Linked DNA regions of Homo sapiens: region 1 is linked to region 2. The links come from fine-mapping of genetic effects on gene expression. A gene starts in region 2. The other region holds a variant in brackets. All regions are shown on one strand. Distances are from middle to middle.

What was found.
Region 1: its variant is fine-mapped to the expression of LSM14B in breast (GTEx, PIP 0.94).

The regions. Positions count from the first base shown.
Region 1 is chr20:62,139,427-62,149,226 of GRCh38, forward strand. PSMA7 (proteasome 20S subunit alpha 7) reads right to left here and starts at 3,968. Exons shown (of 7, transcript NM_002792.4): 1 at 3,782-3,968; 2 at 1,392-1,518; 3 at 355-479. The coding sequence starts at 3,877. SS18L1 (SS18L1 subunit of BAF chromatin remodeling complex) reads left to right here and starts at 4,343. Exons shown (of 11, transcript NM_198935.3): 1 at 4,343-4,463. The coding sequence starts at 4,395. RefSeq lists silencers at 3,170-3,809, 3,850-4,559, 4,680-4,739, 4,770-4,819. The variant T/C (reference allele first, on the strand shown) is at 4,866.
Region 2 is chr20:62,117,306-62,127,105 of GRCh38, forward strand. It overlaps LSM14B (LSM family member 14B), which reads left to right and starts at 5,170. Exons shown (of 9, transcript NM_144703.3): 1 at 5,170-5,488; 2 at 7,312-7,475; 3 at 8,999-9,134. The coding sequence starts at 5,362. LOC105372706 (a long non-coding RNA gene) reads right to left here and starts at 6,379. Exons shown (of 3, transcript XR_936963.2): 1 at 6,151-6,379. RefSeq lists silencers at 4,229-5,318, 5,479-6,018 and enhancers at 4,682-5,369, 5,370-6,058, 6,059-6,746.

The DNA.
Region 1 (9,800 bases), 22 kb after region 2:
ACTTTGACAGGTAGACACACATTCTGCTTACATACTAATGGCGTGTCCTCATAGGGTGGCTTCCAGCCCCCTTCAACTGCTTTGTGACTGGTCACTCAGGATGGCAAGACAAAAGCTATCATTTCCCTCCAGACACAGGAATTTGGAATATCCCATGCCAGGAACTGAGAACAGAACAATGTTACTGAAATTGGTGAGCTAGGTCAAGTTACACTTGTGCAAGTCAAGATTAGGATCACGCCCCAGAATAAATCAGTTTTCTGATTCACCTGAAGTGACATGGCAGGACCCTCCATGGCGGAGCCGTGACTGCCCTGCTGCCAGAGGTGAGCATGCAAGCGGGCAGGCACCCACCTGCTTCAGACTGGCGATGTAGCGGGTGATGTACTCCACAGTGACCGGGTCCTCCACAGTCAGCCGGTGGCTCTGGCACTCCACCCGGGCCCTGTTGATGACTATCCTTGCATCGGCGGTGAGGCCTGCAAGGAAAGCAGAGAGGCTTCTGCTAGAGAGACAGCACAAACTACAGGGTGGGGACAGACACGATGACCCAGCATTTAACCTTCCACAGACCCCCCAAACCGGCAGCAAGGCTATTCTAACTGACTGGCAGCGGAACCTATCAGCCCCTGGGAACTTCCAGGAAATTGGGTACAGATGCTTCTTGATGTGCAGTGGGGTGGTATCCCGCTAAACTCATCGTAAGTCAAAAATACCTGGCTGAAAATGCATTTACTACCCCATAAACCCATTGTAAATAAAAAATTGTAGGCTGCCGTGCAGAATCTGGATTTTTAAAAACACAGATCAACAGGGACTGTCTGCATATGAAGAATTGTGTACTTCAGACCATACTTAAATACAGTACCTGAGTCCTCTTGGGAATCTTAGAAATTGAGTTAATCCCTAATTTCATTACATGAATTGAGATCTTCCTAGATTGCATCTGCTGAGAGGAGAAATGAGCAAGACCAAAACAGCGCTGAGAACATGGCGAGGCATGGCCTGCATCCACCAGTGTGGTCCTTTTTACTGCTGGGGATGGCAGGACGTGGTTCTGTCCTCTCCATGCCACAGATGCAGTTAGCTCTAGAAAGTCCAGCCTTTCTCTAGATTGTAACTGATTGATACAGAAAAATAACAGTGGAGGTCAAATTGCGCAGCAGCCAGAAGTGTTTTCATCCATTTAGCCATTTGTTTCACCTGCTATGGCAGAGAGAGGCCACCAAAGAAACTAGCCAACTTAAAAGTCCAAATCCAATTCTTTTAAATGATTTTCATTTACTCAGTTTATATGGCTCACAATAGCCCACACACCCAAGTTAATCTCCAAAGCCCTATTCTTCGCTGAGACTCTAGAGAGTAAGACAGCGCTCCCCACCGACTCATACCTGCAAAGGCCATGCAGACGTTGTCATCCAAAGCACAGATCTTCCGCACTGTTCTTTCATCCTGCAGTTTGGCCACTGACTTCTTCTCCACACCAAGAACAACAATGTCTCTTCCTCGAACACCAACCTTTAATTAAGATCCACAAACCACGTAAGAAAGTGATATGAGTGCTGGGTGCAGTGGCTCATGCCTGTTAATTCCAGCACTTTGGGAGGCTGAGGTGGGTGGATGACTTAAATTCAAGAGTTCAAGACCAGCCGGACAACATGGGAAAACCCTGTCTCTACAAAAAGTACAAAAATTAGCCAGGTGTGGTGGCTGAAGCCTGTAGTCCCAGCTACTGTGGGGGCTGGTGGGAGGATCGCTAGAGCCTGGAAGGTGGAGGCTGCAGTGAGCCATGACGGCTGGGAGACAGAGACAGCAAGACCCTGTCCCCTCACCCCACCCTATCCTCCCAAAAAAGTGATACATGGTTCTACTGCCAGGCAGCGAGCAGTAGGAGCAGATCTGAACCTGGGTCCTGGGGGGTACGTACTCCGGGTAGCAGCTCCCACTGGAAGGTGCGTTCACCCACACCCCTTTCTCCTCTACTTGTCTGTCACTGTGGCTGGCACCACATCCTGCAAACCCAGGGGTATTCATCTACTGCTGGTAGAGCTAGCCCAGGCGTGCTCACCTAGGTGCCCAACCTGGGCCTTTCAAATACTGAGATGTAGTTTTAGTTACAACATAGCTAGTAAGTAACCATTATATAATCGGCATGTGTTTCCTTTCAACCCAATGAATCAGTCCCATGCAAAGCCTGGAAGCCTGAGACTTTCACTCAAGTCTGGTGTTCTGAAGGCAGTGTTTCTGTAGTTGTGAAATTATATTGAGCCACAATGCACTGTTTCCTGCACTGTGACATACTCATGTGACAGCCATGAGAAGGGGCCTGATTTGCCGTCAGTGGACAAGGTGTCAAGTGTTATCCCAAACTGTTTATGGCTGATGCTGGAGAAGGATATGGCTGTTATTAAAAGCATGAACAATCACTGACAGTCAACCCGAGTCAAGCCAGAAACAAAGGGAACCATCATTGGGATAAACAGCGCCTCCTGGTTTAGAGCAGGGCTTCTCCAGCTCAGCACTGTGAGCACCTGGGCAGGGGGATCTCCCTGTGCCTGCCGCCCTGAGCACGGGTGGGATATTGAGCAGCGTCCCTGGCCTCTACCCTCCAAATGCCAAGAGCACCTCTGCAAGGTCTTACCACTGGAAAAGTCTCCACACACTGCCAGTGGCTCCGTGTGGGCCCAAAACCATCCCTGGCTGAGAAGTATTGATCTGAAGTGTTTGGGTTTTCTGGGAGCTTTCTCAGGTACTGACTCACTTGACCTTCGACTGACTCGAGGCCCAGAGAAGCTATATGGGTTCGTTAAAGCCAGCGGCGGCCAGCTGGCGGGGGTGGCAGTATTGGGGTGGGTACAGGGGTCAGCCGACTCCTAGTCCTCTTTAAGCTGAGTTAGATCACCTGATGAATACTGGGCCTTCATTTCAAAACAAAGATTCAGAAAATGAAAACAAATCAAAATTTACAGAACCGTGTGTGCTGCTTTCTCTGCCTGCTCAAACCTCTGAATACCAGATGATAAAAGAATAACGATCTCACAGACTGACCAATTAAACTGACACGTCTTGATGGTACGAATTTAAGTTTCAAACAATGTCACTAAGGTCAATGTACACGAGCCCTCGTCAAAACGAAACGGCCGCGTCCAAACCAGTCCTGACCCGGGCGGCTGCAGCCCGGCCCCGGGAAGGCTCCTCCCGGCAGAGTGCGGAGACCTGGGAGGCGCCCGCCACCGGCCAGGCCAGCGAGCCGCTTTGTTCTCGAAGCCCACCTGGGCCTAGAGAATAAGTGTTGCCCCGGAGCGGGTGGGGGTCCCCATAAGGGGGGTTTGAGTAGTTCGCTCCCCAGCCACCCGGCTGCGTGAACAGCCCCCCAGCGAGCGCACGGCCTACCCCCCGCGCTCCGCGGCCCAGAGCGGCCCTCGCCCGGCCTCTGCTCGCCGGGGCGGCGGCGCGACCCACGCGCCCGGCCGGGGCCAGGGGTGCTCAAGATGGCGTCGTCACGGCCCCCGTGCCCGGGGCCCCACGCGAGGCCGGGCCCCAAGCGAGGCGCTGAGTGGGGAGAACGAGCGCTCGCGGCTCACGCCAAACGCCGCCTCTGCAGGCACTCGTGGAGACCGGCAGCGGGGCCCGCGCTCAGCTACAGCCCTGACCGCCCGCGCCGCTGCCCCGCGCACGCCCGCGGGCGCCCACAGCGCCGCGCCCGGCCCCGGCCCTCTCTGGGCTCCCCAGCCCCACTTCCGCCCGCGTCCCCGGCCCCGCGCAGGCCCCGCCGCCTCACCGCGGTCGAGCCCTTCTTGACGGCCTCCTGCGCGTACTCCACTTGGAAGAGGTGGCCGTCGGGCGAGAAGACGGTGATGGCGCGGTCGTAGCTCATGCCGGCGGGCGGCGGCCGGGCTCCTTCCGCCGCGACTCTCAAAAGCGCACACTCACGGCCCGCGCGCACCCGCGACTCCCGGCGCCACTACGCCCGCGCCCCACCCTCGGCGCCGTGTCCTGCGCTGCCGGCGACGGGCGGCGTCAGGCGGCGACGGGCAGCGTCAGGCGGCGTCGGGCGGACGTGATGGCGCGCGCCGGGGCGGGGTCAGGCCGAACCACCGGTGGCCGGGGGTGGGAGGCGGTGCTCCGGCGAGGGCCGGGCGCTGGGTGCGAGGGGGTCGCCGGGGGCCACCGTTCGGCACTGGGCCGCAGACCGTTCTGCAGGGCGGAGCGGCGGCGCCGCGGGCCCGGAGGCGCGGCGACGGCGACGGGGCGGACGAGCCCACGACGCGGCGCCCCCCGCGCTCCCGCCCCCTTCCCCCCCTCCGCGACTGCGGATAATGAGCGCCTCGGGCCGCCCAGCGCAGCCGGAGTATCCACCTCGATGACCACGGGCTGAGCCCCGCGCCGCCACCATGTCCGTGGCCTTCGCGTCTGCCCGGCCAAGAGGCAAAGGGGAGGTTACGCAGCAAACCATCCAGAAGGTGGGCCGGGCCGGAGCGGCGGCGCTGGGCGGCGGGTCTGCGGGCGGGCGCGCGCGGGGACGGGGCGCGGGCAGCTGGCGGGCGCGGGGCGCGAACAAAGCCGGGGCGCAGCCGGGCGGCCGCGAGCCCCGACGGCGGCCCCGTGCCCTTCCCCGCGTCCCACGCCTGCGCGCCGGCGGGCACCCGGCCGTGTGGGGGGCGGTCCCCGGAGAGCCTGCGCCAACTTTGTTGGGGCGCGCGGGTCCCTCGGGCCGGGGCACTGGGCGGTGGGGGCCGGGCGGACGCTGGAGGCTGCCGGCCCCCGAGCGCGCTGTCCCCCGAGTCCGCGGCGCGCGCTGGGAACTGTCCTGGGCTATGCCGGGCGCACGGGGACCCCTCGGGGCCGGAGCCGCGGCGAGGGCT[T/C]GTCGCGCTCCGCAGCCAGCTTCGGTGGCGACGGCGGGCGGTACTCGTTTTCTGCGCTCATTTTGGTTAGTGGTGAGGGGCCCGGGTCGGCCTCCGGGCGCACTTGCGACCGCGGGGACTGTGGCCGGGGCTGCCCCTCTTGCTCCTGGAGCGAGGCGCGAACGATGGAGGCACGGAAGGACGCGTCCCGATCCCCATTTGCGGGGCATCGTTACGCAGCCCGGCCCCGTAGGGAGCGCACCGCCCCCTCCGTATCCTCGCGGCTACGCCGGGTTTCAGCGTGACACCCTCGCCAGCCGCCTCGCCTAACAAACTTGACGGATTTGCTCCACAACCTTTCTTCTAGCTCCGTAAGTTCGGCCTTGTGGTTTTCAAGAGACAGCGTTTATGTGGGTTTGGGACACCGTTATCCAAAGCCCTAAGTTTTGAAATTGAGACTTTGTATTTTCTGCTGTTTTTTCTGTAGAAGACAGATTCGGAAGAAAATCAGCATTAGCCATACCCGTTTCAGTTGTCACAACATCTGTTGGAATGACATTGGTTTTTTTTCCTAAACTCTGACTCCGTCTTCACCCTGGTGGGATTGCAGGGATAAACAGTGGTATTCCTAGGTTCCCAGGAGCCGCTTGTCTCCCTAAGGGGGTTCACCTTGACCTTGACTGAGGCTGTTATTCCTTGATGACGTGCCAGTCTCCTGTGGAAGTTGTCCTAAATCTATCGCCTATTTTGAGACTACCTTTGCTGTTGCTAGTTTTAGAAATTTGATGGTCTTAACAAATGAGAACCTTGGCCAACTCTGAACAGGAGAGATTGAGAATAGCAGAAATACAGATTTACAAGTGTGGCATTTTAATTTACTTAGTAAACACTTATGTGGCGCTTACCGTATCCCAGACACTGTTCTAGGGGTTTTATAAATCTTGATTCATCCAATTCTTCATAGAAGCTACTGGCATCCCGTTTAATAGCTAAAGAGGCTGCGGCCTAGGGAGGCCGTGCCTTGCTGGTAAGTGGACACTGAGGCCTAGGGGGGCTAAATGCCTTGCTGGTAAGTGGCACAGCCAGGTGTCGATCCCATACGGTGGCTCCAGGGTCTGCTCTGTTGGTGCCCCTTGATCTGGGAACATTTGGCCAGGCGGAGGTCAAGCTCTAGGCTCAGAGGCAAATGTTGGAACCCAGAGCATCTCCTGGCACTCTGGTTTTTTGGAGCTTAACAGTCATTGTTCCTGAAGCTACCTTTGGCTGCAACGTTTATCCCATTATTTGCACTTCGCACACAGTTCCATTGAAGCTCCCCAAATTCTCCAGGTAAAAGTGTGTATTGAGGTGCTGCCCCGAACATCAGATCAGAAAGGAAGAAATGCACCTGTGGACCGTGGGTCCCTGGGCAGAAACTCAGCCTGCTGACCATTGGAAATAGGCCTTCAGTTTAGGCTGCTGACTTGGCTTGGTAGGGCCAGCAGTCTGCGTATTGGGCTTGGTGTTTTGACGGTGAATATATGTACCCAGGGATCTTTTACTGGGAGGTGTGAGAAGGCTGAGAAAGGTGTGAGAGGTGTATGTTCTATGCCTCAGACGTGTGCTGTGTCCACAGTGTGTGCTGGTAGTGTCATGCCGAGAGCTTTAAGAGAAGCCAGGGACCCCTCTGAAGCCTGCGTGGTAGTGAAGGAGAAGGAAGTCTACAACTTGTCCTTACAGCATTCTGCGTGGTAGCGAAGGAGAAAGAGGTCTACAACTTGTCCTTACAGCATTCTGCGTGGTAGTGAAGGAGAAGGAGGTCTACAACTTGTCCTTACAGCATTCTGCTTGGTAGTGAAGGAGAAAGAGGTCTACACCTTGTCCTTACAGCATTCTGTGTGGGTGGAGATCTTCCAGGCCAACTTCTACTCAACCTTCAAAGCCTCACTCACGTGTTCCGCGTCTCATGCTCCGTCGGCAGTCATGTGGCCCTTGTAGCACTTGCTTGAGCTCCTGAGTTTGGCATGTGACTGATTATTCTTTGCTGATCCCCAGCCTCTCATAGTGTCTGAGCACAGTTAGTGCTGAGCACGTGCTGGATCATCTGTGACGCTGGTCCCATCAGTGGAAGCGTTTTGAGATAAGCAGATGCGTTCGTGTCCTGTGACTTCCTTGACACATTCCCACAACCCAGGTGGCTTCAAACAACAGAAATCTATTCCCTCACAGTTCTGGAGACCAGAAGTCCCAAGTCCAGGGGTCAGTTACCTGCTCTTCTCCTGGCTTCTGATGACTGCGGGCAGCCCTTGGTGTTCTCTGGCTTGTAGGTGCATCCAGCGTGTCTCTGCTTTGATCATTTTTTTTTTTTTTTTTTTTTGAGATGGAGTTTCGCTCTTGTTGCCCAGGCTAGAGTGCAGTGGCGCGATCTCGGGCTCACAACCTCCGCGCCCCCGCCCACGTTCAAGGTTCAAGCGATTCTCCTGCCTCAGCCTCCTGAGTAGCTGGGATTATAGGCGCGTGCCACCACGCCCGGCTAATTTTGTATTTTTAGTAGAGACGGAGTTTCTCTGTGTTGGCCAGGCTGGTCTTGAACTCCCGACCCCAAGTGATCTGCCCCCTCCCCCCCTTAGCCTCCCAAAGTGCTGGGATTACAGGCATGAGCCACCATGCCTGGCCTCAATTTCCCACTTTTTATAAGGACTCTAGTCACTGGTTTTAGGGCCTACCTTAATCCAGCATGACCCCGTCTTTATTTCATTTTCAAATACCTCATTTCCAGTACCTCCCATGCGCAGGCACCAGGGGTCTGGGTACAGTTTAGCCCACGAGAGTGCGTTTGTGGTGAGGGCTATCCCAGAGAAAGAGAACCATGGGGCAGGGGCAGGGAGTCACAGAGGGTCCCGAGCCTGGCCTGCATGGAGCAGGTATTGGGGGACCTAAAGTGGAAGGGCAGGGGGTGCTGGGCTGATGTGGGGAGGGTAGCTGGTGGTGACCAGGCAGCAGTGTGTGGGTGAGACAGTCAGAACTGCTCTGTGGCAAGCACCACAGAGGACATGACTGTGCTGGGGAACCCTGCGGTGGGGCTGGGCCATGTCCCCACGGTGGCCCTGGGCCTGGCTGGGTGTTCTCTAGCCACCAGCTGGGGACTGTAGTGTTCTGTTGTCCAGTGCGTGCTCCTTACGCTGCTGTTGGGGCTGGGCCTGCAGTGGTCACCTCGGACCATGTGGCCAGGCTTGAAGGGGACCCCTGAGTTGCCTCTTTGCTGCTTGGCATGCAGTAATTGCTCAATAAATGTGTTACTGTTTCTGTTTGTATTGGTTTTCTCATTGGTTTCCTTGGCCGGATAATAGCAGTGGTGTCTGCCTGTCTGCTGGGTGTCTGGATCCCCAGCACCTGTTGCGGGGCAGGGTTGGGGAAAGGCTCTGAGGGAATGGGATGGAGCTGAGAGGAGGTGGGCCCCTGGGGCCGCCTGCTGGGTGGGTTTGGTGTGGGAAGACAAGACCTTCGTGGGGTGGGTTAGTGCCGTGCCCAGGGTCCGAGAGCCAGGGAGTTGTTGAAGCTGGACCAGCCCTACCCCATGTCCTTGGTACCCAGGTGCGGGGGTGGGGCATGGGCAAGGGGCGCACTTCTGGGTGGGGATGGGCTGCGGAGGATGGGGTGCACACCCAGTAGGCAGTGGGCACCCTGTGTGCTCCCTCAGAAGTGGAACTTGCTGTCTGAAGGAACGCAAGCTAATTTGGCTAGGAGTGTTTGTAAGGTTAAAGCTGTCCAGTGACTGAATGGCTTGGGGATGCCGAGCCTCCCTTGCATGTGGCTGATTGACAGCGTTCCTCCTGCGATCAGAGGCTCCCCCCACCCGAGAAGGGGAGCATGGGGGCCTGTCTTTACATCCGCAGGGATAGGGGGGTTGGGTCCCCTCATTCCGGAGCCTGGGCTCAGCCCCGGGGAGGGACCCCGCAGCCACCGGCCTTGCTCGGCCTCCTTGCTGTCTTAGGTCAGGTGAGGGAGGCTCGGCCTCCTTGCTGTCTTAGGTCAGGTGAGGGAGGCTTGGCCTCCTTGCTGTCTTAGGTGAGGGAGGCTTGGCCTCCTTGCTCTCTTCGGTCAGGTGAGGGAGGCTCGGCCTCCTTGCTGTCTTAGGTCAGGTGAGGGAGGCTCGGCCTCCTTGCTGTCTTAGGTCAGGTGAGGGAGGCTTGGCCTCCTTGCTGTCTTAGGTGAGGGAGGCTTGGCCTCCTTGCTCTCTTCGGTCAGGTGAGGGAGGCTCGGCCTCCTTGCTGTCTTCGGTCAGGTGAGGGAGGCTCGGCCTCCTTGCTGTCTTAGGTGAGGGAGGCTCAGCCTCCTTGCTGTCTTCGGTCAGGTGAGGGAGGCTCGGCCTCCTTGCTGTCTTAGGTCAGGTGAGGGAGGCGCTCTGCAAGGCCCTTGAACCCAAGCGCCACGGGGGAGGTGGGCAGGAGAAAGGCATTGTCCTGGAGGGAGCAGCCACAGCCTGGCCTCTGTCCCCCCTCTGCCTGTAAAGCCTGGCCATACACCCTCTTGCTGGATGCTCCTGAAGCTGCTCTCCCAACTCCTACCCAGCCTGGAGGGTGAGGACGCATTTGGATAAAGACACTGTGCCTGCCCACTGCCCTTTACCCGTGACCTTTCCAAGGCTGGTGGGTCTCCAGAGTCCCTGTCTGCCATCCAGTCGCCGGGTGTGGAGTCTGGAGCCAGCAGCCAAAGGCAGCCCAGGTCTTGCCCAGGTGGTGCTCGCTAGCCGGCGGTCCTGCGGGTGCTCTCCTCGAGGCTCCGGCCCTTTGCGCGGTCTGGGCCCTGGGCCAGTGGGTCGGGGCCTGGGCACCTGCCTCTGTGTGCTTGGAGTCAGAAGACAGATTCCCTGGAATCCCCGGGCTGCAGGTGGTGGCAGTGTCACGCCCGTCCCCAGTGGATGCAGGAATAAACAGGCCCTGGGTGCCGAGCAGTTAGCGGGCTGGCGCTGATGGA
Region 2 (9,800 bases):
GCCTGGTGAGGACAGGCTTTGGGAAGCCTGGCACACCTCTCCCGACATCTGCACCGCTCCTTTATCTACATGACCTCATTCCTGGGCCGTGACCCTGCCCAGCAGGCGCTCGTGCCGCATCAGGCAGGCGTAAAGACAAGTGCCCAGCCTGGCTGGGATGAGCCCGTAGGCCTCTTCAGTAACCATGGCAACGCTCTAGGACGCACCCGGCATCCTTTGCATGGAGTCAAGAGAGGATACAATGTAATAGGAGAGACCCTTGAAGAAGAAGCTGCTTCCTTCCCTCATGCCCAGTGCCAACCTCAGGTCAGTCTCCATCTGGACATCTGCAGAGCATGAGCTCCAAGTGCAGAAATCGTGTCTGGGCTTTGTCCCTTCCCGCCGTTCACTATCCCCTCCCCCCGCCCCAACCTGAAGGCTGAGCACAGAGGACCACCAGGGAGGAGGCCCGGACGTTGAGCACCCAGGGTTAGCAGCCGGCAGACTGACACAGGAATCCCAGCCCTGTCATGTGCTGGCCGTGTGACGCTGGCTGTCACCTAGCCCAGGCTGAGAGCCTGGTTTCCTCCTCTCACAAGGTGCAGCACCACATCCGGAGGGCTGCGGAGGGGTTCGGGGAGGAAATGCGTGGCCGGCTTGGGCACCAGGTCTGGCACTGAGTGGTGGGACTGGGCTGGTGACACTCAGTAAGACAGTGGTGGATTGACTTAGAAGGGGCCTTTCATCGTTTACTTTCTATCCAAGTAGAACACAGGGCTGGGGAATGCTGCCCCCACCCCAGCCATTCCTGAGCCCCTAAAGCCCAGGAGCCCCTCACAGCCACCGGGAGAGAAAAGCTGCCAGCCTCCCGCTGACAGCCCGTCTTCTGTTCCACCAGGATCTCTCAGCATTTGATCCTGCATTCTGAGGTGGCAGCACCAGGGCTGGCCCTATCAGAATCTGACATTTCGAAAGCTGGTGTCTGGGTCTGCCCAGGTTCTCATCAGCTCCAGCCAGCTGTCCCTCCAGCTGCACCTGGAAGCGGGGCCGAGGCTGCCCGCTAGGTGCTGGAGTTTAACACACTCCTCTTTTATTTTCCAAGGAACTTCCCATCACACAGGGCTCCTCACGCCAGGAAACTCGGCTGTTGGGGTGGGAAGGGGAGAAAGGGAGGTGGAAGGGGGACAGGAGGCAGGAGGGGGAGATGGATGGGAAGAGGGAAGAGGGTCTGAGGATGCCTGAACTTCAACCCACTGGTGCTCATCCAGCCTCCCGGGAAAACAGCCCTGCAGAGCCCCATGCAGGAGGAAATGGATTTTAACTGGATTCACAGAGAGCAGGTCAGACCTCCATGAGAATTCCTGATGGTACAGGATCAACTCAGCCCTCCCTCCTCACCTTACTGTCCAGCCACCTGTGGGTCCCTGTGCCCCGAACACCCTCCCTGGGCCTCACTGTCCCATTCCCTGCCCGGAAGTCCTCCTAGCAAAGCTGGCCCTGAGCCTCCCCACACGGCACACCTGTGCCCTCCTCAGCTCCCTTCAGGCTGGTGCTGTTGCACCTGTGCGGTTGGAGGGTCTTCCTCGGGGGAGGGGGCCTGAGGCCTGCAGGGCCTCCCCAATCCCCTCTCCTGCGCCAGATCCTGAATGAGGGGACGGGGACGGTTGAGTCCTGTCTCACCAGCACGTGGCCACACTTCAGACCACTGACTTATCTGTGGACCACCCATCGTTAACGCCCTCTGAATTAACTCAGCTGTTTTGTGTGGCGCCTACTGAGCAATGACACCTGTGAGATCAATGGCTGTGCCAGTCATTCTTGCTCAGGGGAACATTAGAGTCACAGGATGGTTTTCTGTGGTGGGGCACCCTTACCTGCTGCAGGATGCTGGCCTGTGCCACCCCAGCTAGACTGGTGATGCAACGTGGAGCAGGGTCCTTACTCCATGTCTCCCCACCTGTCACTGGGGACCACGGCATGCTCCTACATACACAGAGCAAGCACGTAATGAGTGGCTTGTGGCTGCAGCAGAAACCTCTCCAGCTGTCCCTATGGCCCTCCCAGTGCCCTCAGCACACCCAGTTCCTACACGTTCCTCCAGAATAGCCCCTGGTTACTCTCAAAGCCCTTCACAGGCATGATCTTCCGGGGTCCTCAAGCACACCAGTGAGATGGACAGGCAAATGAAGAAACTGAGGCAGGCAGTCCAAGTGGCCCAGGGTTTCCCAGAAGCCCCAGCTCATTCCTCCAAATCCTTGGGCTCGCTGGTCTAAAGCCTGGTGATTACCAGGCAGGTGGGCTGTTCAGACCTGTGCACAGTAAAGAGCTGCTTATAGTGGAGGTGCTGGATACATGTGCCCCAGCCTGGAAAACAAGCCATGCCAGTGAACGTCCAGGTCGACTTAGGCCTGGCACAACTGTCGCCTTCTCAGACCTCACCCAAGTGCCCTCCACTTTGGGCAGGATACCAAGGAATGAATGGCAGGGCCTGCATTCCTGGACCTGGGCACTACGTATATTTTTAGCCTCTGCCTTCCTGGGCATTTGCAGGGTGGCTAATGTTCTCAGGGAGCCACCAGCTGCACACCCACGGGCTGGGCAGGCACTCGGAGGTCTCTGGGAACTGCACCCTCCCTGCCTTCAGTCCGGGGGCTCAGAGGCCAGCTCCTTTTCAAGGCAGAATCAGCTCCTGCTAGTGAAGCATGCACCCCACCCCCAACACAGCCAGAAGCCTGTGGCTCAGAAACTAGGAGGCATGAAGTACAGGATTTGTGACCTTGGATTTCCTTACTTGGAAAATGGGGTGGGGTGGGGGGACAGAAGGACTTTGACTCCACATGGGATCACCAGGCCAGCTCACTCAGGAGACCTGGTTGGCACCTCCTCCTGACAGGTGCACCCTGTATATCCAAGTGGGGAAGGATGTGCTGTGTTGAGAAGCTGAGAGTCTGGGTCGCGCTTCCCAGGGCCAGATGCCCCAGTCGCTGGAGACCTCTCCTCCCTGAGCTGGGCTGACTCCATGGCTTTGCTGTCTCTGTTCTCTTCCTGCATATGATGTTCCAGGAGCCAAGAAGCAATTCTAGAATGTACAGGTCAATCTTGGCAGATGAAACTGAATTTTCCCTCTTCTCTTCTGCTTCCTGTGTCCCCTTCCTTAAACTCATCACTGTTCTCTTACTGGCCATTGCCGGGCTCTGGTGGGAGCAGGTTGGCTTCACCTTTGTGAAGAGACAAGAGACAGTGTGATGCGGCCCCAAGCCTGTGGAGGATGCCACCAGGCCAGACTGCAACTTCTCTGCGTGACTCCCCCGTGCTGGGCCTCTGTTTCCCCTTCTGTCAAATGGGGAGTCACAGCGTCTACCCTGCAGGGCAGGTAAGATCTTCTTATTATAGTCAGAAACACATTCTAGGTCCTTACCAAGTCCACACTTACACAAACAGGTGAATTAAATATTTCACAAAATAATACTTACTTTCACCATGCGAGATACTATTATTTTCTTTTTTTCCTTTAGAAATAGGGTCTTGCTGCCACCCCTGCGTGCAGTAGTCCAATCACAGCTCATTGCAGCCTCCAACTCCTGGGCTCAAGTGATCCTCCCGCCTCTGCCTCCACCTCCCCAGGAGCTGGAACTACAAGTATGTGCCCCCACACTCGCCCAATTTTTTTTAAAGTTTTTTTTTTTTTTGTAGAGATGGGGTCTCCATATGTCGCCCAGGCTGATCTCAAACTCCTGGCCTCCAGTGATCTTCCCGCTTCGGCCTCCCAGAGTGCTGAGATTACAGGCATGAGCCACCCACCACGCCATCTGATATCTTCTAGCTTATTCTATTTCATTTTTATTATTATTTTTCTTGAGACGGGGTCTAGCTCTGTCGCCCAGGCTGGAATGCAGTGGTGAGATCTCTGCTGACTGCAATCTTCACGTCTCAGGCTCAAGCGATTCTCCTGCCTCAGACTCCCGAGTAGCTGGGGATTACACGTGTCTGTCACCACGCCCGGCTAGTTTTTTTGTATTTTTAGAGTAGAGACAGGGTTTCACCATTTTGCCCAGGCTGGTCTTGAACTCCTCACCTCAAGTGATCCGCCCGCCTCCGCCTCCCAAAGTGTTGGGATTACAGGCGTGAGCCACCGCGCCCAGCCTATTGCATTTTTATAGTCACCACCCACTACTTTTTTTTTCCAGGACCCAATATTGGTCCGTGATCTGATGATGTTCACGGTCAAGACGGAAGCAAAAAAAGCACACACCGCGCGCCCTCGGTCACTAATCACGCGGAGTATACGCGAGGAGGGCCCGCAGCTAAGCGACGGCGGGCGGCCGAGCTTCCTCCACGGCCGGGGAGGTGGGCAAGGCCTCCGGGCCGCAGCCCCGGGTACGAGCGGAGGCTCCGAGGCCCCCGGTAGCCAGTCAGAATTTATTTTAAGGGAAATGGAAAGCTGCGGCAGGCTTTGGGAGGAGGGGCAGGATTAAAAGAGAAAGTGTGCTCAGCATGTTATATTTAGAGGCTGCCACGCCGGAAGCGCCGCCTTCCCGGGAGCTGCCGCCGCGCCCGCCCCCCGCCGGCACCTGGGCACTGGGGCGGGAGTCCCGGGGCTGCCCGGGAACACCCGGCGCCCAGGGCCTCCGCCACTCCCCGGTCCCCCATGAGGGTGAGGGCTATAGGCGCATCTGGCCCAAGATAGGGGAGTCGTCCGGACCCCACTTCTGTAGGAGGGGAAACTGAGGCCAAGGGGGCAAAGCCCCCGTGTTCGCGGCGCCCAGGGTCCGGGGCGGCGCCGGCACGCGCGCGGGCGGGGCCTGGCGCTCCTCCCCGGTCCCGCCCACTGAGCGTGCAAACCGCAGCCGCCCGCCCACGCGCACGCGCGCTCCTCCCGGGCCGCTTCCCACCCCTCCCCCCGCCCGCTCAGTCTCGTGCTCCCAGCTCCGCGAGGGGCCCGCCGGGAGCCGGCCGAGGGTGGGGCGGATCGCCGGGGAGACCCGCCCCCGGCCAGCGGCGCCTTGCTGCGCAGGAACGACGCGAGGGCCCGCCCCCCAGCTGGCGGCCCGGCCATATTTAAAGGACGGCGGGCGCGGCGAGCCAATGGGCGGCGAGCGTGAAGGGGCGGTGCGTGGCGGTGCGTGGCGGCGCGAGGCCCCGGATGTGGCTGCGGCGGCCCCTCCTCCCCCGCGCTCCTCTCAGAGCCCCAGTCGCGCGCCCCTTCTTGGTTCGCTCGGTGCCCGCGCAGGCCCCTCGGGCGGTGGCGAGGAGGCGCCCAGGCGGAGGCGGCGGCGGGCGGAGGAGCGCAGGAGCGGGCGGCCAGGCCACCGCGCGGCGGCGGAGCGGGCCGCGGCCCGGCGCTCCTTCCCCACCGCGGCCCGACGCACCCCGGCCGCCGCCATGAGCGGCTCCTCAGGCACCCCGTATCTGGGCAGCAAGATCAGCCTCATCTCCAAGGCGCAGATCCGCTACGAGGGCATTCTCTACACCATCGACACCGACAACTCCACCGTGGCGCTCGCCAAAGGTAGCGGCCGCCGCCCGCCCGAGCCCGCTGACCCCCGTCCGCCAACAGCCCCGGCCTGCGGTGCCCTCCCCGCCCCGGGGCGCCCCGGAGCCTGGCGCCCAGACCCCGCCCAGAACCCACCCAGGGCACACCCGGCCCGAGATCCCCTGCCCGCGCCTTCACCCCGGACGCCCCCGAGGCGCCCCCTTCCCGCGCGCCACCCTCCCCCAGCGTAGCCGGCCGCACAATGGTCTCCCTGGGCTCCCAGGGCGGCGGGATTGTGCGCGGGCGCCCGGCGGTGTTTGGTGAGGGGCGGGCCCGGCCCCCGCGGTGCCGCCCCCTCGGCCGCCCAGCCCACCTCTGCAGGTGCCAGCTCCGAGGAGCAGGGCGGCTCCCGTCAGCGGGCCTCCTCCCCGCCAGCCTGGGGGGATCCCTGCGGGGGAGCCTCGAGGTCGGGTGGCGGGGCCAGTGTCCCGGCGTCTCCCGAAGGCTGGGGGTGGGGTCACAACACGCGAATCCTGCAAGCCTTTCTGGAACTTATTAGACAGCTGGGGCCTTGATCCTGAACAAATACCGCGTCCTAATGCGGCCTCCTGCCAAGGCAGAAGCATCCGTTGGCAGCCAGATGCCCCGGTTTAAACGGTTCTCCTGCTCTATCCTGACCTTCCCACTGTGGGGCTTACCTTTTGGTGACAGCCGCCTGTGGGTGCTCGTAACCGGCTGTGGCCGCTGGAGGACTTACAGGAGGGGGGCTCTTTAGAGTCAGAATCTCTGAGGTTGTTGAGGCAGCGGGTGGTCCAGAGTTTCTTTGTCTTCATCACCCAGAGAAGACGGGGAGTGCACTTCCCCTGCCTCTCAGAGAAAAGTGCCCGTGGAGCCACGTCTGCCTAAGCCCGTGTGTGTGCTGGATCTGGCGCTAGGCTCCCAGGGGTTCTTGAAGTGTCTAGACGCGTCTGAAACGCTGCTTAGGTCACAGGGAACTTCATGTGTAGAAGAACGCACTCATTCCAAACAGGGAGTGTCTCCTTTTGAAGCCCGTCTCCTGCGTGGCTTCAGGAGCTTGTTGAGTATGCCAGGGCTATGCACTCACTTGCAGCCATGGAACCTCACTACACTTATTACAGGAGAGCCCAGTTAGAGAAGCTGAGGCCCAGAGTAGGCCCAGGAGTTAGCAGGAGTTGTGTCTTACCAGTTAGAGGCTGCTGTCCCACCCACCTCTGCCCCTAGAGGCTTGCTAGAAAGAGACTTGGGCGCTCCTGGAAGCCTGCTGGTTAGGGGTTAGTAGACTCAATTCCTTATAGATGCGGAAGCCGGGGTCAGAGGTCCATAATCCTGGGACCCTGTCTCCCTTTGTTTTCTGTTACAGCTGTTCCAAGGTTTGTTATGGATAGAAGGGTAAGGGCAACACTCGTCTAGATTCCTTTGTGAGAAAACTGCCTCCTCAGGCGCAATGTGCGGTGAGGCTTTGGGCATAAAGCAGCCGGCTGGCTGTTGGATCTACAGAGTCAAACGTGAACAGGGAGGCCTTACGAAGCAAGCCTTGTTTTGCTGAGAGCTCTGTACGTTGGTGCCTTCGCACATCAGACTGTCAGTCTGTGAAATTGTTCCTTGTCATCTTTGTGATCTAGAGCTGTCTGTTGTCTGGAGCTTCACCAATTGGTGCATTATCAGCACTGTCCATTGAAAATCGGGGCATTAAGTAGTTGTTGAAATGTGGACCTGGGGTGCTGTGTTGTGGCTCTGAGCAAGTGTCGCCGTCTTTTGGAAGGCTTGGGAGCAGTGGTGTCAGGGTTGATTGAACTGGCTGAGGACAACAATAACGCTTCTCTTTCTCCACTCATAAGTGAGGTCCTTTGGCACTGAAGACCGTCCCACAGATAGGCCTGCGCCCCCCAGAGAGGAGATTTATGAGTACATCATTTTCCGAGGAAGTGACATCAAGGATATCACTGTGTGTGAACCTCCGAAAGCTCAGCACACACTCCCGCAGGATCCCGCCATTGTTCAGGTAAGTGTGCCACTGTCCCTCTGTGCATGCTGTAGGAGATGCTGGTTTCCATTTGGAGCTTGGTGGCATGTTTGGTCAGAACGCTCAATGTGAGGAATAACCTTTTTTTTTTTTTCTTTGAGGCAGCGTCTCGCTGTGTCACCAGGCTGGAGGTCAGTGGCGTGATCTCAGCTCATTGCAACTTTGGCTTCCCAGGTTCAAGCAATTCTCCTGCCTCAGCCTCCCGAGTAGCTGGGACTACAGGGACGCACCACCATGCCCAGCTAATTTTTGTAATTTTAGTAGAGACGGGGTTTCACCATGTTGGCCAGGATGGTCTCAATCTCTTGACCTTGTGATGCACCCGCCTTGGCCTCCCAAAGTGCTAGGATTACAGGCGTGAGCCACCACACCCAGCCTGAGGAATAACCTTTTAATGAAAAGTGGCTTAACTTTTGTCCAGGCTGTTGCTGCTCTCACAGAAGGTGTTGATTCTTGTAGCACACACAGTAGGTGGTGTGTGCTGTGTCACGTGGCTCTTAAGGAAGGCGACCTGGGGAGTTGGGTGTGCATGTGCGCGTGTGTAGTGTAGTGTGGTATGAGTGGATGCTCCTGGACCTGTGATGTTTCGGGCATAGCGTTTGCCCTTAGTTTCTGGTTGGAGAAGTCTGAGCCCTGAGCAGCTGCTGTGAGTGGCGTGACCTACCTGCAGGGACTGCAGGGCTTGCCCTCGGGTTACGCCCAGTCGTTACATGCTGCTGTTATACAACACCAGATTTGCAAGTCTGATGCCATGTGCCTGCTTATTGGGTTATGGCTTATTTTGCCCATGCTCCCCCAGGGAGCCCAGATTAATATTTTCTTCACTTCTAAATTTAAATATTCACTAGCTCCTCTGGGGTTCAGACTGCATTAGGTTCTGTGCTGAGCACCCATCCTGGAAGGTGGGATCACACAGGGCCGGCTTTGGGAGCAGTGGGAAGCCATCCGATGGCTTTGAGTTAGGAGAAATTTGGGTTAGAATTACATGGACAAGACACCTGTAATCCCAGCACTTTGGGAGGCCGAGGTGGGCAGATCACCTGAGGTCAGGAGTTCAAGACCAGCTTGGCCAACATAGCAAAACCGCGTCTCTACCAAAAATACAAAAATTAGCTGGGTGTGGTGGTGGGCATCTGTAATCTCAGCTACTCGGGAGGCTGAGGCTGGGAGAATCGCTTGAACCTGGGAGGCAGAGGTTGCAGTGAGCTGAGATCACGCCATTGCACTCCAGCCCAGGCGACAGAGCAATACTCTTTCAAAAAACAAAAAACAAAACAAAACAAAAAAAGGAATTACATGGACAGGTGAAACTGGAACTGAAATGCTGTGGAAAAGGCAGCTCTCACCATACTGGAAACTTGCACCCCAAGGGCTCCTCCAGCATCTCAAGGGTGCAGGCTGATGGGACGGTGCTTGTTTCCCAGCTGAACAAGCGCCCTGATGAAGGCGTGCGGGGTGATGGGATGGCCTTCGCCGTTCTCACCCGATGTCTCGTTGTTCAGTCTTCCCTGGGTTCTGCCTCCGCCTCGCCCTTCCAGCCGCACGTGCCTTACAGCCCTTTCCGAGGGATGGCGCCCTACGGCCCGCTGGCGGCCAGCTCCCTGCTCAGCCAGCAGTATGCCGCCTCCCTGGGTCTAGGTGAGTGACCTGTTTCTGTCTGGTAAACTACCCTTGCGTGTAACTGTCACTGAGTGGAGCGATGGAGCCTGAGGGTGGGGATATGCATTCCTGTCATGCTCAGCTTGTAGACTGTTTTGTTGCACACTTAGTAAATTACCCAGTGCAACTTCCGCTTGTGAGAGCATTTAGTAACTACTCAACTGAAAGTAAAAGAGGCAGCAGCCTGAGTGTTGGAACAGAAGAATCAAATCAAAATTCATTCGAAGAGTCAGGGCGGATCTAGGTGGAAGTCCTGGGCCAGGCATAGTGGCTCACTCCTGTAATCCCAGCACTTTAGGAGGCCAAGGCGGGTGGATCACAAGGTCAGGAGTTCGAGACCAGCCTGGCCAACATGGGGAAATCCTGTCTCTACTAGAAATACAAAAATTAGCTGGGTGTGGTGGGACACACCTGTAATCCCAGCTACTTGGGGGGTTGAGGCATGAGAATTGCTTAAACCTGGGAGGCAGAGGTTGCAGTGAACTGAGATTGCACCACTGCACTCTAGCCTGAGCGGCACAGTGAGACTCTGTCTCAAAAAATAAATAGGTGGAAGTCCTGGTATATCTGCTTCAAAGAAGAAATAGCTGATATATATGTAGTATTACAGATGAAGTCTAGCTGTTTGCACATTTATAAGCCTGT